2 separate regions of the Homo sapiens genome follow, and region 2 is linked to region 1. The links come from fine-mapping of genetic effects on gene expression. Tissue or cell type: nucleus accumbens. Region 1 holds a variant in brackets; the other region holds the start of a gene. All regions are shown on one strand. Distances are from middle to middle.

Region 1 (9,544 bases):
GGATCGTTTTATGCGGTTCTTACAGCACATCACCTCTTTGCCCCCGACGGCTGTGACGCAGCCGGAGGGAGGCACTAGTCACCGACAGCGGCCTTGAAGACAGAGCAAAGCGCCCACCCAGGTCCCCCGACTGCCTGTCTCCATGAGGTACTGGTCCCTTCCTTTTGTTAACGTGATGTGCCACTATATTTTACACGTATCTCTTGGTATGCATCTTTTATAGACGCTCTTTTCTAAGTGGCGTGTGCATAGCGTCCTGCCCTGCCCCCTCGGGGGCCTGTGGTGGCTCCCCCTCTGCTTCTCGGGGTCCAGTGCATTTTGTTTCTGTATATGATTCTCTGTGGTTTTTTTTGAATCCAAATCTGTCCTCTGTAGTATTTTTTAAATAAATCAGTGTTTACATTAGAATTCTTGGCAGATTGCTTCGGCCTGTGATCCTGCCCTGTTGTTCTGAGCCTGTGCGGTGGCGGGGCCGGGATGTAGTGGGTTCTGGTTTCCCGACGGGGCTGGGGCCCGGCATCAGGTCTTACAGAGCAGAACGGTGGCAGGTTGCCCCCAGCTGCCCAGGGCCTCTGCGGCCTGGGTGCCCACAGCCATCTTTCAGGCACTTGCCCTGCTATGCTCGGACCCTTTCTGTACCCTTGGCGCTTACCTGCTGGCAGCCTGGCCCCACCGGCATCACTGGGAGTGGGCTGTGCCACCATACAAGCCACATCTGACTGGCGGTATCAGGCTGTCGCAGCGACGTGGAAGTGGGGTGAGGAGGTCACGTCCCGTGCTTCTTGCTGGCTGAGGGCAAATCCCTCCCCACGTGCGCCTGTTCTCTCTCCACCTTTCCGCCCTAAGCCCCCAGGTGCCCTTACTCACTCATGTTCCTTGAGCCAGGTGTCTTAGGTCTTTGTGTGGATGAGGAGGAGCGGAGGTGTGAGGTGTGCTGGGCCTTCAGGGCCTGGGAAGGCCATCCCAGACTGAGCCCCACCGCCCTTTCCCAGCTCAGTCCCCACCGAGCTGACAGCTTGGAAAGGGGCGGTTGGGAAGTGAGTAGCACCCTCTGATAATGATACTGATCAGGCCAGCAGGTTTGTCAGGGGTGCACATCCTGCTCAGCAGAGCATATGAAGATCACAGCTTGGTGAAGCTCCACTCGAGAGACCTGGAGCGAGACTGCTGTGCGGTGGGTGACAGGTGGAACTCCAGCCGGGCCGGGGCTGGTGGAGCCCACTGCGAGCAGTGCCAGGCACAAGATTCTCCCCCTCTCATTTCACAGGGACAAAACCAGGCTGGGGCCCCCAATTTCCTTGCCGGTTGAACCATAGCTGGCCACCAGATCCACCAAGCCTGGGGCTTCTCTTGTCCTTTGAATGGCTGCTTCTCCCAGGTCTGAACGAAGACATAGGACAACTCTGGTGACAGCCACAGCTGGTGGCCGCTTCCTCGTGTCAGATGTGGACGGTCACCCCGCCCTCCCAGCGCTAAGCGCTGAGACTGCGTGTCCAGAGTCGGCTCCTGCACGTGAGGCCAATTGGTCACACTGGGCCAGTGTGGAGGAAGACGCCTCTCATCTCCCAAATGGGGATCTTTCATGGGTGTCACCTGAGCTTATAGAGCTTAGTTTAGTCTAGCCATTCCAAGACAGTGGTTTCTTAACCTTTTCTAGGTCACAAAACCTCCTGAGAACCTAATGAAAACTGGATCCCAGCCCCAGAAAAATGCACCTGTGTGCACACACCCAGCAGTTTCCAGGTCATTTCAAGTCCTGCCTTCGAGGTCCATTGTTATTATTTACAAAACACCAGCCTAAGGTATTGGACATTTTCTTAAAAGGCCAGGCAAGGTGGCTCATGCCTGTAATCCCAACACTTTGGGAGGCTGAGGTGGGTGGATTGCTTGAGGCCGGGAGTTCAAGACCAGCCTGGGCAACATAGACCCCATCTCACAAAAAATACAAAAATAAGCTGGGTATGGTGGCACCTGTAGTCCAGCTACTCAGGAAGCTGAGGTGGGAGGATTGCTTGAGCCCAGGAGGTGGAGGTTGCAGCAAGCTATGATCGTGCCACTGGATTCCAGCTCCAGAGTGAGACCCTGTCTCAAAAAAAATTTTTTTTTCTTTTTTCTTTTTGAGACAGAGTTTCGCTCTTGTCTCCCAGGCTGGAGTGCAATGGCACAATCTCCGCTCACTGCAACCTCTGCCTCCTGGGTTCAAGCGATTCTCCTGCCTCAGCCTCCCGAGTAGCTGGGACTAGAGGTGCGCACCACCAGACCCGGCTAATTTTTGTATTTTTAGTAGGGACGGAGTTTCACCATGTTGGTCAGGATGGTCTCGATCTCTTGACCTCATGATCCGCCCACCTTGGACTCCCAAAGTGCTTGGATTACAGGCATGAGCCAGTGCGCCCGGCCCACCACTTTTTTTTTTTTTTTTTTTTTAAGACGAGTCTCACACTGTCGCCCAGTCTGTAGTGCAGTGGTGCCATCTCGGCTCACTGCAAGCTCCGCCTCCCAGGTTCATACCATTCTCCTGCCTCAGCCTCCCAAGTAGCTGGGACTACAGGTGCCCGACACCACTCCCGGCTAATTTTTTGTATTTTTAGTAGAGACGGGGTTTCACCATATTAGCCAGGATGGTCTCTATCTCCTGACCTCGAGATCCACCCACCTCAGCCTCCCAAAGTGCTAGGATTACAGGCATGAGCCATCGCACCCGGCCAAGCCCACCACTTTTTTTAATGAGAGAGTTTTTGTTACTGTCCTCCTCTGACAGGTAAGGAAGCTGAGAGGCTCAGAGATGTCAAGCAGCTCGGCCAAGGTCACACAACATGTACCAGCTGGTGCCTACCACGGCAGTCTAATCAGTAGACAGTGCAGACAGCCCCAACAGGACCAGGAGAGAACTGTGCCCAGGGCCGGATTTCTCCCTCCACAGTGGAAGAGAAGCAGCCAAGTATTACAGCCAGCCCAGCTCCTTGGGCCGCAGAGATCATCTCAGGAGGCCTTTCTAAACGGAGTGCCCTGGGGAAGCAAACTCTAAACGTCCTCGTACGAGAAGACATTAGGTGAGACCAGGCTGACCACAGTGTCCCTGTCAGCACTGCCCTCGTCCCTGGGGGTCACCTAATGTCTTGCTCCCCTGCCCCCACACTCCAGTTGATATCACTGCTGTAATCAGGGAAATCTCTGAGCTCTTTTTCTGGGAGGGCATTTCCGAGGGGCCAAGGAGCTGCGGATTGGAGGAGCACCAGCAGCACAGGGCATGCCCCTGCTCCCTACCCAGAAGCTGGAAAGTACCATGTCAGGTTTGGGGTCTTCAGTGAAATCTGTCAAGCAGCGTCTTTGGCACTGGGGCAAAGTTAGGATGAGGTGGCTTCCCTCTTGATTACTACAGCAGCTGTCTATGGCTGACTGTCCCCAGGAGCCTGTTTTGTTTGGGGTTTTTTCTTAAATATTTTTATTAGTATTTCAAACATACAGGAAAAGACAAATGTTTTCCATTCATCTTGATAGCTAAATACCTTTAGATCTACACACCAAGATGAAGACCGCCTTGTGTCTTGGATAAATGTAACGAGCAGATGCTGGCAGCTCGCAGGTGCTCTGGGCTGGAGTAGTTAGAACTGCCGGGCCAGGTGGAGTGAGCCAGCACTGCTCAGGGGAGCTTCATCTCTCTGATTCCAAAATAAATGTTTTCTGGAGTCTCAACTTCACCCTCCTGGAGAGGGGTAATCTTATCTGTGGAGGAGAGAGCAAGGGCTGAGGGGGCGCTGGGGTGGCATGAGAGGCCCAAAGACCTTGACAGACACGGTGGGCTTGGCCGCGGGGCACCGGGTTAAAGAGGAGGCTTAGCCAAGCCCAGCGGGAGTTGATTTGACAGCAGTGCCCTTAGCAGCTTGATTGTTCGGATTTTCAGGGCTACTGAGCTCAAGTGTACAAGCAAACTGGAAAGAATAGCTTTGTTGGGTTTTTTAAAGTGATAAAAGCATAATGACAGCATATCCACTGCTTTGAAGGCATCCCCCGCCCCCGTGTTCTTTATCTCAGGTTTTTCCATCAAGGTTAATCTAATCCTGCTAAATTAACAACCAGCCAGTGCATCCCCAAAGAGCCTGTGGAATGTGCAGGGTGGCTCAGCCTCGGTGTTCTCTAAAGTACTGGCTGTGGGTGGCTCCTTGCTCACTTGCAGAAGTTGGCAAGTGACGAGTGGCCAGGGGACCGTGCGTCAGGGCGTCCCTCTGCCCTCAGCCTGCTGTGTTTCACCCGGTCTCTGGTGAGCACATCTCTGGCTGCTTTGCGTGAATGAGCCAAGGGAGGGATAGATCTAGCTTACTGCCTCCCCCTCCCTTAAGCCAAGCAGAATGGGGTGTGTGTGCACACCTGTGGTGAACGAATCTGTCCGTTCACCCTGTGCCAGGGCCGTCCTTACAGCAAGGACCCCGGGGATGTGTCCGTCCCCATCAGTGTCATGTTAGCAAGCAGTGACAACATCCCTTTGCAGGAGGCATCCTGAACCACTCTGTCCTCAGACAGTGGCAGAGCCCAAGAGAACAATGTGCCCCACCCCTCCACCAGCCTCAGGAATCATTGTCTTGTCCCCATCACAGCAGCCCTAAGACTCAGGGCACATGCGCCAAGCCTGGGGGGCTAGTTTCTGTGTGGGAAGCGATGGGGAAGCGGTGAGGAGCTCCTGGAGAAGGTGGCAGCTTTCATACCGGGTGATGTTCTGACTCTGGTGTTCTCTCCCATCTCAGCACCCATTCTGCTCCCCAGTCAGGTTGGTTCTTTGTGGCTCAGATCTGTCACCCCTTAATGAAGTGGCTTTCTGGCTGCCAAGGATTGAGAGCTGCTACTGAGGAGTATAAGTCACTAATAGCATGGAAAACACTGTGAAATACTCCAAGGTGCCAAGCTGGGCCCAGCCCAGTGTGGTTCTAAAAGGCTAATAAAAATCCACCAATTAATTGTGACAGCTCAATGGGAAATTATTCAATTGTGAACAGGGGCAAGCTGCAGCTCGAAAGGAGGAGGGGAGGGGTTGCCATAGTAACATCAATGTAAGTTCTCATCTCAGCAGCGGAAGCCAGCCCGGGAGTGAGCAGCATCC[G/A]ACCGCCGCCTCTGACACGGGATGGGATGCAGGAGACACCAAAGGCGCGTTTGAAACAGATGCTTTGCCTGGCCCCGGGCCTGCAGCCACTCCCGGCTGAGCGTGGGCTCTCCCCGGGGCAGAGAAGTTGTTTTCCGAATGTTCCTTGCTCTTAGGAAACCTGGGAAGGAGCAGCCGAGTGGAAGTGAAAAGCACATGTGCTGTGTTCCTCCGCCCCTTTGACCGACTGCCGGTTACAGGGATCTAGAGGAGGGGTGTTTGGGTCCAGTCAACAGGAGCTCCATCTCCCGAAAGGCAAGGCACCCAGAACTCAGACTGTGGGGGAGGCCAGCATTCCAGTATGGTTTTGCAGTTGTCACAACTTTTATTTGAAAAGATACACACGACATATTCTGATTTTGAACATGTGAAATGCAACCTTGCTATAGCAAAAACGGGATTCCTTCCCAACGCATCTCCCAGGAGACTCCTGGCCGGGCTAACACTGGGCCGCGGAGAAGGGCTGCGGTCAGAGGGGCAGGCAAACCACAGCAGGGGCTTCTTGCCAGGGGGATCTTGTGCTCATGGCATGGAGAAGGGGATCGGGTTCTTTTTTCCCATTTTTAACTTTCAGAACCATCCTCTGTACCCAGTGGAATGCACTCATTTGCACTCTGATGTCAGCCGCAGTCGTGCCTATAGAGACTGTCACAACTTTGATTACCCAACTGTAAGCACTCAGCCCGCTGCCTCGCTCTGCTATTCACACTCATGGCCCAGCCACAGCCTCAGCTCCGTGCCCCTGGGGCCAGGGGGCTGCTCGGAGTCAAAGCCCCAGGGGAAGAGAGAGGCTGGGACGACCGAGGCTCCAAGACAGCCTCCTTTTTGACACTGCCTAGTTTTTCGCTTCAGCAAAGTTGGAAATCAAAAGTAAGCACACACCTAACCTGTCCTACCATGGATCGTTCATCGTAACCAAGCCTACATCATCTGGGTGTCGTGGTCTTTGAGACTGGGGGAGAAGGCAGGAGTGAAGACAATGGGGGTGAGTCCAAGAAGCAAATCCTTCCAAGGCGTCCTGGCCCTTCACCGCCGACCGAAGCGGAAGCTGAAGCCGCCTTTCTTCCTGCTGTAGCCATTGAGCTCCTCAGCCAGGTTCCCTAACGGGCCGCTGGTCTTCTCCCCCGCAGCAGGGAGGAAGCCGGTGGCCTCACTGCCTTCGTCCTGCCTCCCGAAGCGGAATCTGCAGCCAGCATGCTCTCTGCCCGATGTCTGCAGCCCCCTGGCTATGACAAGCAGGGCCTGTGGCTGTGAAGCTCTCAGCCACCGAGAGGAACCCCACACGGAGTGGGGTCGGGGCCCCATGGCCAGGTCGGCCCAGCGTTCTCCAGCTCCGAGGCCACCCATGGCGTCTGTGGGCTCTCTTCTGTCCAGTAGAGGGAAGCAGGCGCCCAGCGGCAGGAAGAGGAAGTAGATCAGGGGGTAAGGCCTTACCATCTGACCCAGAGGAAAGAGAGGCAGAGTGACAGGCTGCACACGTGGCCAAGCGCAACTCACCAAAATGTTTCCCCGGGACAGGCTGGCAGCGTAGATGTGAGCAGGGGGCTCAGCTGAGCCCGGCTTCCGAGCAGTGCTGGGACTAGGCCACTGTTTTATTAGCAGGATCAGGAGGTGATTGTGCCAGTTAGGCCGGTTCTTCTCCTGCAGTCCCCACGATCTGCGTGCCTGGGCAGCTTAGCACCGTAAATCCACCGCTGCTGGCTGGCAGAGCAGTGCCCAGGCGGCCCCGGGAGAGTCAGCAAATGTATGCTCATTTTTCTCTTATTATAAAATGGCCATATCATTGCAGAGCCATGGGGTGGAAAGTTAAAAGCATCAATCTCCCTTAGTGTTCAACTGGATAATAAATGGGTCTAGCTATGCTGTTTAGCTGGGACATCCTGCTAATGTCTCTTTCACGTGGGAACGAGTTGCTCCTGAAAGCCAGAAACAGATTGGATGGTCCTGGCCTAATTCGGACACCCACCTGGGAAGGAGTGTGTGGACACCACTGGGGCCTGGGCACCGTAGGTCTGCCAGGCTCTGAGCCAAGAGCTCACACATGTGATTGTACTTCATCTTCATAGTACTCCTGCTTGGTAGGTCCGGCCAGTCCCACTTTTTCAGGCAACAAAACTGTCAGAAAAACTGAGATTGTGCCCAGGCCACACAGCCAGAAAGTGGAGGCTCTGGATTCATGATTCTAATGGCCAGACGGCTTCTTCAAGAAGCATACATATCTGCTAGGTACTCCCAACCCTCCTATTTCACAGGGGTGGTGTCGGTCTCAAACAGCTGAGGTGACTTGCCCCAGATCTCATGGCCTTATCAGTGCCAGAGCTAGAGTTCAATCCCAGGTCTAACTGGGCTTGACTCAGGAAGGCGTGCCCTAACTCCCTCCTCTGTACTCCACATGGCACTCGGGGGATCTGAAACCCAGCCTCCTGTAATGAACCTGCCTTGGTAACACTTGCTCCCTTGTCTGGCAAAGAAAACCTTTTTGACAATGACCGCGGGGGAGCTGGAGCTGGCTTGTCCTCCGCAGAGTCAAACTGAGGCTAGACTAGAGAGCACCGGCCCTGGAGAAGACAGTACAGGAGTCCCCAGAGCCCTTTCCAGAAATGGCTCCCTCGAACACATTTCAAAGAAGCGAGCTCAGCCAGGAAGCTTTTAAAAAAATAATACATGCAACCCCACTTTCTACCCAAATCCAGTTCTTCTAAGCTTTCGTCCCCCAGGGATGGAGTGACCTCCCTCATGCTGCCAGGAAAACCTTTCCATCAGGGCGCAGGCAGAGTGGGGGCTTCCACGAGGTGACTTTCTGCAGCGGCCCAGCCCATTCCCTCCTCCCCATAGGAAGCACTTTGCTGACTGCGATGTGGACCAGGGACCGTTGCATCCTGGTGGATAAATCCACCCGGGAGTGGCCTCTGGGTGTCTAGAAAGGAGACAGCCTGACAGAGCAGGCCCTGGAGTGGCCCTTCACCCCTTTTAGGGGTTCATGCACCCCTTCAAGAATCTGGTAGAAAGTGGGGATGCTCATCACGGGACAGGCGGCCCCAGCGCGAGTCAGGGCTTCAGGCCCCACAGCCAGGAAGGGACAGGAAAAGCACGGGTGAGGCTGGGTCCCAGCCCTGGCAGGGCAGCCGTGACCAATCTGTGCTGCTCTGGGCTGTTGGCAGGGGAGGCACTGGTGTCCCCTCTCCGGGCACTCCCTCCCTGTGCTTCTGTGTGCCCTCTGACTGCCCATGCCTGGCTCCTGCCTGGGCAGGGCCTGAGCTGGGGTTCCTGCTGGGGACAGGGCAGCTATGCTCACCGTGTGGCTGGGACTGCTCCCAGGAAGGCTGGCTGGTGGATCGCTGGGCTCCGGGGCTGGGCTGGGCAGAGCTGCTCTGGGTCCTCGTCCAGGAGGCATGGCCCCTGGGCTCTCCCTGCTTTATATGGCCCGCGGTGCGCTTGCTGCTCTGCCGACTGCCTGCTGCGCATTCCTGACCCTGGGATTCCATTGGGGACGCTGTTGTTGAAGAGGGGCAGTGCTGACCGCGTTGATAAAAACAACCTCACACAGGATGTAGTCTGATGAGAGGGCAGGCGGGCTGCCCTTTGGAGGAGAGCAGACAGCATCATTAACTGCAAATTGCGGGCACAGACCCTCGAGTCCCTTGGCGGGGGTTCCAAGCCCACCCTTCACCCTAAGGGTCCTGCCTTTGCTGGGTTGGCACCTCACGCTCCGGAGAGGACATGGGGTGGGTGGACATCTACCCGACACACCTACTGCCCAGCTTGCAGGATGGCTTTCATGGGCAGGAAAGCCACAGACACCCATGAGGCCCGTGTTTCACAGGCACCGGGCTGCGCGGCTAAGCCAGGTGCACCTCCCCGGCAGGTGGAGCCCTCAGCGGCCTGTTACCCAGGAACCAACCAAGGGGGCACGGCAGATGCCCAGGACAGCAGTGGAGCATTTGCCTGTGGCCCCCAGCCCCTCCCACCGCATACCCTGGGTGGCCCCCTACTGTCACCGAGGGTCACCTCTGGGAGGCCAGCAGGAGGACCCAGCCTCTGCTCCTTGCCCGGCAGAGATTCTCCCTCCACTGAGAGCAGGCAGGGGGGTGATGAGGCAGCCCCACCCCACCACTGTCAGGAACTGAGCACAGAGGGCCTCCCCCATTCCAGGGGCCCTCACCCAGCCGACCTACCCCTGCATCCCGGCTGCTGGGGGATCAGAAGTCATGGGAATAGAGAGCCTGTGGACACTTCCCCAGAGACCTGAGGAAGGCACTGGAATCTCGATCCTCCACTTCGGGGCTGAGCGCCCAGGTTCGGGCGGAGGGTCTGCGGATTGAAGCCGATGACTGAGCTTTGCTGGCCAGAACCAGCTTCCATCCCCCAGGCCAGGGCTGCCTCCGATGGCCTGAGGTGCCCCTGTCCTGT
Region 2 (10,804 bases), 47 kb after region 1:
AGGAGGAAGGGATTTGATGCCAAGGCGCTCTGCTAAGCTGGCACACCTCCCTTCCTCCTCACTTCCTAAGAGAGCTGGCTGGCAGGAGTCCCCTGGGGAGACTGGGACCACACTCCACAGATGAAAGGAGGAAGAAGAAAGTTTCCCTCCGGGGGAGGCCAGGCCAGGTTAGACCCAGGTGAGTGCCCCTCCTGCCGCCCACCCCCATCTCCTAAGAGCACCCAGCCCAACGCAGGCAGCTGTTCTGCATGACAAAAACACATCCTGGGGCTTTGCACTGGGAAATGGAAAGCTGAAGGTGGCGGGGTCCTGTGGGCTCTGGATCCAGCAGAGGCTTGCACAGAGCCTGGGCAGGGGGCTTATGGGCTCTGTGGGTTGAGGGGACTGGGCCCTGCCTCAGGCCAGAGCCTCAGGGGAATTCCTCCTGTCTCCCCAGGAGCCCACTCTGCTCCCGGCTGGCACATGGCTGGGCACATGGCTCCCAGTAAGGGCTGAACTCTGAGCCCTGGCCCTGGCAGAGGGAGGGTCCCAGAGACTCCCCTGGGGGTGAAGGGTTGGTGGCTCTGCTCACCATTCTGGGGTCCCAAAGACTTAGGAAGGGGGTCTGCAGGCTTGTTCTGTGAGATCTGAGCGGGAACCGCCATACCGCTGGGGACCCTTCAGCAGAACCCTGCCGAGGGCCATCTGGCGTCTCAGGCCACAGGGAGGGGCGCAGGAGGGGCTGAAGGTGTCCAAGGGGACAAGAGCGCCCCACAGAGCTCCCAGCCTCTGCCCCTCCGGGAGGTTCCAAGCCCCCCAGCTGTCTCACTTCCTGGGAGCATTTGCTCTGAACCACGGAGGGGGCTTCTCCAGATGTTTCCTATAAGGGTCTTGCCCACCCTCCCCGCGACATACAGCTCTGGCCTCCCAGAGGGCCCACTGGGGCCTCAAGCCCACTGAGGCCCAAACCAGCGTCTCTCCACCCCAAACCTGAGCCCTCCTATTTTTCACTCGGGGATGGCACCAACCCTACCTGTTGCCCCCACAAAGCTGGCACCTCCTCAGGTCTCCCTCCCTCACCCAACATCTGGATAGTCACCTGCTCCTGTCCATTCTACCTCCTCAGCCACACCACTCCCCAGCTAAACAGTGAGCTCAGAAGGAGGGGCTTGGGAAACCCCAAGCCTAGCACAGTGACCTCAACCCAAACCCCAGGGAACAAGAAGAAAGAGGCATGGATCTTCCAGAACCCATGATGGTTTGCAATCGCCCCGACCTGTGAGTTTGTTCCCCCCGTGAGACTCTAAGCTCCCTGAGGCACAGACTGTATCCACCAGACTATACCTCCTAGCATTAGGTAGGGCCTCCCTAAATAGTCACTGAGTAAATTTAATGCAGCAGGGATTTAGGTTAGACATCAGGAAGAACTTCCCAAAGAGATTTTCTTTCTTCCTTTCTGAAATGTTCTTAGAAATTTTGAAAGCGTCAAGAGATCTTGCCTGGGATGGGTTGGAAGTTGACCTCCCTGTAGGGTGGCTTGGAGACAGCTCAGAAACAAGCCCCTCTGACCAGAGGAAACGGTTGCAGAGTGACTTCCTGCCCCAAGCTCCAAGACCAGAAGAATCATGTCTATTTCTAGATCCTTTCATCTGACAAACTCCAAACTCCTGGCAAATACCGTTTCACCCTGCCCCAAGGGCGTGAGAGGCTCCTCCTTCTGTAGGGAGAGGGAGGACGCATTAACAAAGTCCAAATCGGCAACTTGTCCAAGGTCGCCCGACAAAGAGTAGCTGAGGCTGGATAGGGCTGGGACAGATGGGGCCCAAGGCGTTTCCCAGAAATGGCTGCACTTGGACAAAGGTCCTTCAGGACCTCCGGACCTGGGCTATACCCACTCACAGCGGGTGATTTCGGTACCCTGAGAACCACACAGCCTGGACACTGCAGTCCCAACTGGGGCTGAGTGGGCTGAACCAAGAAAGGGCGGCCAGCCACCCCTTAGGCACTTGTCTGCTGTCCAAGAAGACCCAGGTTTGAGTCCCAGCTCCAGCTCTTAGTCTCAGTTTCCTCATCTGTCAAATGGGTTCATCACTCCTGCCACCAAGCTCCTAGGGTGGCTGTGACTAAGAAATGAATCTTAGTCGTGGCCTGTGACCTACTGGTGCTTGGAGTGCGGCGTCAGCGTTATGCTCCCAGAGGAAAATCCCCGTTAAAGAACCTCGGCCAGGCCCCGTTTGTAGGAACCAGATGTTCAGATGGCGTTTCCTGGGGGGCAGAGAGGAGACCGGGACACAGCCAGCCTGTGGAAGGGACAGGCTGCTGCGAGAGGCATCCTCCTCATGAGTACACAGTGCTTTGCAGTTTGCAAAACACACCAGTATGTCACGTGGCCCCCATAACAGCCCTTGTGAAATGAGGAGGAAGCGAAGATTGCTGTTCCCACTTTACAGATGGTGAAGCCCAGGCCCAGAGAGGAGGAGTAACTTACCCAGGGCCACACAGCATGTCAGTGGGTGAGACAAACCTGGCCACAAGGGAGGAGAGAAGGCTGGCCCAGGAGAGGGCAGGCCCAAGGGAACCAGGGCAAGCAGTGTTCTCTCTTTCTTCTGACAGTGGCCACAGGAAAGGCCTTGCCTCTTGTCTGAAGCTTCAAACAAGCCCAGAGCTGGCACAGGGAACAGCCTGTCTACATGCTGGGTCACCAAACGGGCGGGGAGGGGAAGCGGGTGCTTGCTATTGGCCCAGGCTCTTGGAGCAACAGCCCTCGAGCTTCCTCCAATGCCAAGGGGCAGACAGCTGGGCTGTGTGGGGGCTGAAAGCTGTGCCCCCAGGGAGCAGCAGAGGAAGGCGGGGCCCGGCCTGGAGGCCTTGAAGCCACATTTCAAACACATTCCCCAGAAGGCACCTCCCCTTGAGACAGACCAGTGCCTGCTGGCCGTCTCCTGAGGCTCTTCCTGGCCGAAGCGTCATGCAGTGCCATTCAGCAAACGCTCTCAATGCCTGACCTGAGCTGCCTGGAAAGAATGGAGCTTGGGCCCAGGGAGAGATGCAGAGATGGGCTCCAGAGGAGGGTGTGTCCAAAGGGATCTCCTGATGCAGGAGGGGCCCAGGACAAGGCAGCTGAGTGGCACAGGCTAAACACTACTAGAACTTAGAGACATAGCCACAGGGCATCAGGAAGTCTTCCTGGAGGAGGTGGCAGCATTTGAGCTTGATTTTGAGTATATGTAGGGTGTCCCTGAGTGAAGGGGTGTGTGTGTGTGTGTGTGTGTTTGTGTAAGGCTGGGGAAGCAAACAAGATGACACAGAAAAGATCTGGAAATGGAGCGGCGTGGTGTGGGGCCCAGGGTTGGCAAATAACAAACAGTCACTGCCTGTAAGGGACCAATGGGAAGGCACAGTATGCCAGGTTAGGGATGGCCTTGGAGGACAGGTCTAGAAGTTAAGACAGTTCTTGCTAAGGGGGAGAAGTCAGATCTCAGCAGGAGGGGACTTGTTATTTTGGGGTGGCTTAGGTGCAGACCTGACCTAAAAGAGGGGCGCGACCACCCCGGAGAAGCAGTGGGATAGGTGTGTGGTTAGACCAGAGTTTGAATCCCCACTCTCTTGCCAACGTGCTGTGTGACTTGGGCATGTTCCGAACCTCTCTGATCCCTGGTCTGTGATGTGGGAACGCACTGGCCCCCAGCCTGTTTGGAGAAGTGAGGTAGTGCCGATGAATGGGAAGGGGCTTTGCAAACCGCAGAGGGCTGGGCCCTTGTGCCACGGCAGTGTCACACCAGGAAGAATGAGCAGGTTGCAGCTCCTGAGAGGAAGGGACCACCAAGGGCTGCCCGTGCCGCCCCCTCCTGCAGCTGCAAGCACGAACTGTTCCTTCCCCAATGACATCTGTCTGGAAGAAATTTAAAATTTAAAATGGGCAGCCCTATTCTCTCCTCTCCTTGGTGAGCGAGCGGCCTCCTCGTTTTCGCCTGCCTGCCCCAGTCCCTTGGCAGCCCAGCCTGGGGCAGCCCTGGGGCTCCCCTCCGCCTTGGCTTCGGGACTCCAGCCCCCTTGCTGGCCAGCCCAGGTGTTCTGCCCTCACCCGCTTCCACCGCACAGCCCTGGGCACCCTCCAAGCCCCACCTCCACTGCCCCTGAAGAGGCAGCAGGAAGGGAGGAATGAGTCAGCCCTGGAGCACACAGACAAGGGTTCAAATCCCGACAGAGCTGCGTGGCCTCAGGCAGGAGCCAACCATCTCTGAGCCCTGCTTTCCTTGTCTTAAAGTCAGAAAATCACAATACCCAGCGTTCCTGCAGGAGATGAATCTTTATTGATCCCCTACTGTATGCAGGGCCCTGGCTAAAGGGAAGGATGCAGAGGAGATTCAGGGGGTCAGGTTCAGGACCAGGTGCCTGGCACAGGGTAGCGCCCAGAGTGGAGATTCTGTGGGTAGTTAAGATGCCCATTGTAGAGGTGAGGAAACGGAGACTCAGCAACGGGGCTGATTTGTCTGTGGACACACAGCGAACTGTAAGTCCCCGCCTCCCTCTGCACCCGCGTGCACCAGGGGGCTGCTGGGGGTGCGGGGACGCGGGAGACCTGGCCCGCAGCGCGCGTGGCTCCTGCAGGGGTGCCGCCCCCACCGAACCTCGAGTTCAAGCCTCGGCTCGGGGAGGAGGAGAGGAGGGTCCCCATCCCGGCCCGGGCCTCCGGAGCCTCGAAGGGGTGCGCCCCAAACTCCAGCCCCCGCAATGGGTGCTCGCCCCGCCGGCCCGAGCGGCCACCGCCTGGCCAGCCGCCCAGGCCCCGTGTCCCAGCGCCCGAGCGTACCTGCGGCTTGTCGCGCGGCCGGTCCTCAAGTTGGGCAGCGCCGCCCATGGTCTTCCACCGGTCGTTGACCATCTTCCGGCAGGACTGGCGGGGGCGCCGGGCGAGGCGCGCCGCTGCGGAGCGCAAAGGAGACGGGGTGGGCGCGGGCGCGGGCGCGGGGCGCGCTCTGTCCGCCGGGTCCCCGCCTCTGTGCCCCGCGCCGGGGCGGCCCGGGAGCGGGCGGGCGTGTGAGGATGAGCGCGCCGCTGTGTGCGGGCGGGAGCAGGAGCGGGAGCGCGAAAGCCGCCAGCCCAACGCCCGCCGCTCGCGCTGCGCGCCGTCCCCGCTCCCGGCTCCGGCGCCTCCCCGGCGCGCTCCTCTCTCTCCTCCCTCGTCCCTCCTCCCTCCTTCTCAATCTCCGCATCTTTTCTGGTCTCGGACTCTCTTTGCTTTTTATTGCTCCCCTCGGCCTCCCCCGACACACTCACACACACGCGCGCGCTCACACCCGCGGACTTGGATACTAAACTCCGCCTCCGAAAAGACCTAGGGAAAGGAGGCCGAACTGGCCCCCAGATAACGCGGCCGGCCGGAGGGCAGCAAACAGCCGCGGGCGGCCCGGCTCCTGCTGGCTCCCGGAGGGGCCTGAGAGCCCCCCGGCGGCGCCTCTGCACAAACTTCCTCCCGGACCGGACTCACACAAGTCACCATGCGCGGGGCGGGCCCCGAGGGCGCCCCCGCCGGCCGGTTCGGCGTCTCCGGGGAGTGGCGCGGCGCTCCTTCCGGCTCCCTCCCGGCTCAGGACGCAGGGCTCGCCCCAAGACCCAGGCTGCGCCGGGGGCAGTTTCGGTGGGGTGCGCCCCCTGCGGGCCCCCGAGGTCTGGGTCCAGGTCCCGGGGCAAGTGCGCCCAGCTGTGGGGTCTCCAGCCCCCGGGGACCTCCCTGCGCCGGACCCCGACGCGTGAGCCTGGCCGGTGGGCGTCCCAGTCCGCGTCCGCAGACCCGTGCCCTCGCGCCCGCGGTCGGAAAGCCCACACGACGCCCCCTTGCCCGGGCGGCCCGTGGGCGAAATGGGGGTCCCCACCACTGCCACAGCCGCCGGCGCTGTGGTCGCGAGTACCAGCCGCTCCGCGCTCGGCCGCGCTCCCGGCCGATCGCCCGCGCTCCCCGGCGCGCCCCGCGTGGTCCCAGCCCCCGCCTTCTCCTCCGCCGGGAGGGGATTTGTGCCAGGAGGGGGCTTCTTAGTTGCCCCTTCCCACCAGCAGCACTTTTAAAAGCATTTAATCCGCCCGGAGCGGCCTTCGGAGGTAATTGACAAAGTCCTTAATCTGCGCGGCGAACGAGCTGCTATTGTGGCTTCTGACCGGGAGGCGCCCACACTGCCCGACGCCGCGCTCCCCTCCCGCCGCCCCGCCGAGCCCGCCGGCCGCCCCTCCTCCGCCCCTTTCTGCGTCCCCATCTTTTTCTGCTCCCCCAGCTCCAGACAGACCCCCGTTCCCCGCCCCCGCTTCTCCCCAAAGCTGTTTTCCGGCTCCCGGGGCGCCTTGGCCGCCGCGCTGTTCCCTGGCACCGTCTCCGTCTCTCCCCCACTGGCTGCCAGTCTGTCGCCCCATCTTCGTCCCTCTCCCGATCCCTCTACGCGTCCGGCACTGGCGGGGCAGACTGGTTGGGGGTGGGGGCCGCGTCCAGCCTGGGCTGGGGCACTCCCTGGACCCCGGAGCGGGGGACCCTGTGGCCCGGTGCCATCCGAGGAGACTGCCACCCGCCAGGCGCTGGGTTCACAAACCACCGGCTGTTTGTCCCCAGCCGCCTTTTCCTTCCAGGACAACCGCTGGCCTCACCTACGGCCCGATCCCGGCTTCCCGGACTGAGGCTGCCCGGGAGTTGGAGAGGATCCCACAGCAATGGCTGGGAGTCAGGAGACCCAGGTTCCAATTCTGGCCTCTGGCCCTTTCTGGCCCCTCGGCCTTTCCTATGAATTAAGAGGGTCAGCAGGTGATCTAGAGGGCCCTCAGACTTGGGAAGAAGGATGTGGTGGAGGGCACAGGGCCCTGGCTGTGTGGCTGAGGGCAAGCAACATACCTCTCCGAGCCTCAGTTTCCCCATGTAAGCCAAAGGGTTGACTGCACACGCTTCAGAAGGGCTCTGCCACAGTGCATCACAGCACCTGAGCAGGGCAAGGCTCAGATGTTCCTGCTGTGACCTTGGGCAGATTCCACGTCATCCCCAAGCCTCAGTTTCCTCGTAAACAAGGACTTGCCTATTGGTGGGGAGTGGCGAGGTTTGCAGGCCCTTGTGCAGTTACAGGCACAAAGCGGGCAGGTGGCGGAAATGCAAGGCTCTGACTCCACAGTTTGGCGAGAGGATGTAAACTCCAGACGCATTTGTGCACAGATGAAAGATCACCCTGGGGGGTGGAGCGGGGGTGGGGGGCTGAACTGAGAACCCACGGGAGGGGTGCTAAGGACCAACGGAGGAGGTCTTGGAGATGTGCTCAGAGTAGTCAGGGAGGCATCCTGGGATGGAGGGGTGTGAGCCCGCCCCCAAGGCCCATGAAGGCAGCATCCAGAAGTCTGGGTGCTGAAGGAAAGGCATTTCCAATGGCGGGGCCGCAGAAGGGAAGGCGGAGCTAGGGGAGTGACCCGGGCGTACCTGGGCAGGTGCAAACCGGAGGACCGGAGGACGCTCTGGAGGATCGCCTCCCGGGCCTGCAGAAGCGCGGTTGGACAGGTGAGCGGGGGCCACCTAGCGGCTCCTGCTGGGAGTGTTGGAGGAGGTTGGAGGTTGAATCATCTCACCTGCTCAGCCACAGGTTCAGCCTGCGGGAGTGCCTTACGTGTGTGTCTTCGGGAGCGGGCCTCACTCTGTCACCCCCTCTGTGCTGACGCCTCTGCTCAACACCCCAGGAGAAGGGTCAGCCGTGATGCAGGACTGGCATGAGCCTGCAGGCGTCTGCTCAGCGCTTTACACACTGCACTCAGCAGACACACTTAGGACATCGTTCTGGAAGAAGGGAGGGCCGCCCCCATTCACTGGAGCCTCCGAATTGGTGGAGAGGAATAAAATGGAAGTGGATCCCAGAAGCCAGTGCTGACCCACAGCCAAGATCTGTGCGAGAGAAAGGGCAGCCGACCCCACAGAGCAGACAGGCCCTCCACCCTCGGATTTCCCTTTGACAAGGCTGATGACCACAGAGCACTGGGGGCGAGCTGGGCTGTGCTCAGCAGGTGGGACAGGACAGAATCAGGGCTTTCCAGCCAGCCCAAGACTGAGCATTCCTTGTCAGGGACGAGCCAGCACCTCAGGGTGCCAGAACACAGGACCGGGAGGCTGCATGGTATTAGACTCGAGGTTGCCTGGTAACTTGTTCACTCTCTGCGCATCCCCTCACCTTCCTCTTTCTGGCTCACCAATTCTGCCTGTTCCTACTTTGCCTTTCCAAGGCCACCTGGATATGATGGCCCCACCAATGGGCAACTCCTATCTAGGACTGAACCAGGCATATCAATCATAAGTGGCAGATGGCCAAAGACAGCTGTCCTTGGTCAGGTACCAACCCATCAGACCTTGGTCAGGTCCAATGTGGGGGCATGGCTGCTGGGGCCCTAATGCAGGACCCCTCCCTTAGCAGGGAGTGGGTGCAGGGCAGGCAGTACGGCGACATGGGAGGGGTGGAAAAATAGTCCATGGGGAGACAAGGAAGAGCAGCAAGGGACATAGGGGGACAACATTCAGGGTGCCAGCCGTGACCAACAGCCACCTGTTGGAAGCACCCTCACGCTCAGCGCTGTGCTGGGCACCTCATATCCTCCCAGCCCCCTAATAAGTGAATACTATTGTCCCCACTTTGTGGATGAGGAAACTGATTCAGAAAGGTAAATTACATGACCTGGGTAATTGTGTAATTAATAAGATGATACGATCAATATGGGGCCAGGCACAGTGGCTCACACCTGTAACTCCAGCACTTTGGGAGACCGAGGCAGGTAGATCATCTGAGATCAGGAGTTCGAGACCAGCTTGGCCAACATGGTGATACCCCATCCCTACTAAAAATACAAAATTAGCAGGTGTGGTGGTGCACTCCTGTAATCCCAGCTACTCCGGAGGCTGAGGCAGGAGAATCACTTAGAACCTGGGAGGCAGATGTTGCAGTGAGCCGAGATCGTGCCACTGCACTCCAGCCTTGGCGACAGAGTGAGACTGTCTCAAAAAAAAAAAATCAATATGGAATTACCATTTACCAAACATTTCCATGTGCTGGATACAGCAATACCATTAACAATACCATCTTATTTCAAGTAATCCTCACCCAAGACCTGTAAGTGTTATTAATAGCCTCATTTTCTAGATGAGGCAACAGAAGCTCAGAGAGGTTAAGTAACTCAATCAAGACCACACAGCCATTGGTGGGGCAGAATTTTTTTTTTTTTTTAACACGGAGTCTCGATCTGTCGCCAGGCTGGAGTGCAGTGACGCAATCTCGGCTCACTGGCTCTCTGCAACCTCTCGGGTTCAAGCGATTCTCCTGCCTCAGCCGCCCAAGTAGCTAGGACTACAGGCACACGCCACTACGCCCAGCTAATTTTTGTATTTTTAGTAGAGACAGGGTTTCACCATGTTGGCCAGGATGGTCTCGATCTCTTGACCTCATGAATTGCCCACCTCAGCCTCCCAAAGTGCTGGGATTATAGGCATGAGCCACTGCGCCTGGCCGGTGGGGCAGAATTTGAACCCTAGTGTGTGCACTTCCAGAGACTATCTCTCTTTCTTCAATACCTCGGTGCCTCTTCGTCTGCCAGAGCTGGGCCTGAGCCACCCGGTGAGCGTGCTGAGCCAGCATGCAGCAGGGCTTAGCGGACGTGGGCAGAATAGCCAATGTGCCAGTCTCTCGGGGCCTGGGGGACTGGCTGGCCAGAAGGTCGGGACCTCTGGTCCCCATCCACTCAGCCTCTGCCCCGCACTGCCAAGGGTACTCAGCTCTCGCCATAAAGCTGTTTCAACTTGACTCTGACAGTCACATTTATCATTAAAAATAAATGTATCTTGGCTTCTGTGGCGTGGAAAACTACTGTGCAGTGATTCAATGGGCTTGTCACCCCTCACGGTTAGGCACGGGGAGCTGAATGACTGGATGGTCTCCAACGCCAGCTCCTCATTTTCTGCGGCTGGAGCCAGAAATGTACAGTGGGCTGACATTTAATTTAGAATCCAACATACCTTGACATAAACCCATAATACAAAGGCGGGGGTGGGGGTGGGGGCTGCCAAGCCTGGTCGGGGTCGGGGGGGAGTCCAAGTGACAGGGCGAATTTCTTTCTTTCTTTCTTTTTATTTTGCTTTGTCAACATTGAGTGGTGATGACAGACGAGAGGCCGTGATCAAAGGCGAGAATTAGCACGGAGAGAATGTGTGTGAGTGTGTGTGTGTGTGTGTGTGCAGCCTGTGTGTCAATTCATGGGTGCATGGGTGGTGCGTCTGTGCCCTGAGCCCACTGGGATGCTGTGTGTGGCATCTTGCGATGTGTCCGAGGCTGGGCTGTCAAGACTGAGGCTAGAACCCCGGAGCAGGACAACGTGGTCACTCCGGGTGAGGACAGCACCTGCCAGTTCTGTCTTTGTGTCCCTAGCACTTACCGAAGGTCTTCTAACACAGTCAGTGCTCAATAAATGCAGAGCAGGAAGGGGAAACGTGATTTTAAAAGCTGGATGCAGAGTTCCTCTTAGGGAGAAAACTGGCTTTTTTTTTTTTTCTTTTTTCAGCAGAACATCCTGATGGACTATTTAGGTGTGAAAAGCAGAGGCTCAGGGGCTGACCTGGGAGGAGAAGCTGCAGGAAACCCAGCAAGAAATGCCCAGGTGGAGGGGTGGAGGGGTGGAGGGGTGGAAGGGTAGAGGGCTGGAGGGGTGGAGGGCTGGAGGGGTGGAAGAGTGGAGGGGTGGAGGGGTGGAGGGGTGGAAGGGTGGAAGGGTGGAGGGGTGGAAGGGTGGAGGGGTGGAAGGGTGGAGGGGTGGAAGGGTGGAGGGGTGGAGG

The links. PIP is the estimated chance that this variant, and not a neighbour inherited with it, causes the effect.
Region 2: FIBCD1 starts here. The variant in region 1 is fine-mapped to the expression of FIBCD1 in nucleus accumbens (GTEx, PIP 0.93).

What each region holds. Positions count from the first base shown.
Region 1 is chr9:130,887,268-130,896,811 of GRCh38, forward strand. It overlaps QRFP (pyroglutamylated RFamide peptide), which reads right to left. Exons shown (of 3, transcript NM_198180.3): 1 at 9,310-9,544; 2 at 8,430-8,714; 3 at 5,440-6,571. The coding sequence starts at 6,571. The coding sequence ends at 6,161. It overlaps ABL1 (ABL proto-oncogene 1, non-receptor tyrosine kinase), which reads left to right. Exons shown (of 11, transcript NM_005157.6): 11 at 1-408. Among named protein-coding and RNA genes, the nearest start is that of QRFP, 4.8 kb to the right of the region's middle. RefSeq lists a silencer at 1,255-1,549 and enhancers at 6,363-6,877, 7,666-8,353, 8,354-9,040. The variant G/A (reference allele first, on the strand shown) is at 5,096.
Region 2 is chr9:130,933,744-130,944,547 of GRCh38, forward strand. FIBCD1 (fibrinogen C domain containing 1) reads right to left here and starts at 5,504. Exons shown (of 7, transcript NM_032843.5): 1 at 4,793-5,504. The coding sequence starts at 4,864. It overlaps FIBCD1-AS1 (FIBCD1 antisense RNA 1), which reads left to right and starts at 6,603. Exons shown (of 3, transcript XR_930398.3): 1 at 6,603-6,699; 2 at 10,537-10,629. RefSeq lists enhancers at 5,206-6,136, 7,582-7,801 and silencers at 5,381-5,590, 7,359-7,653, 9,570-9,743.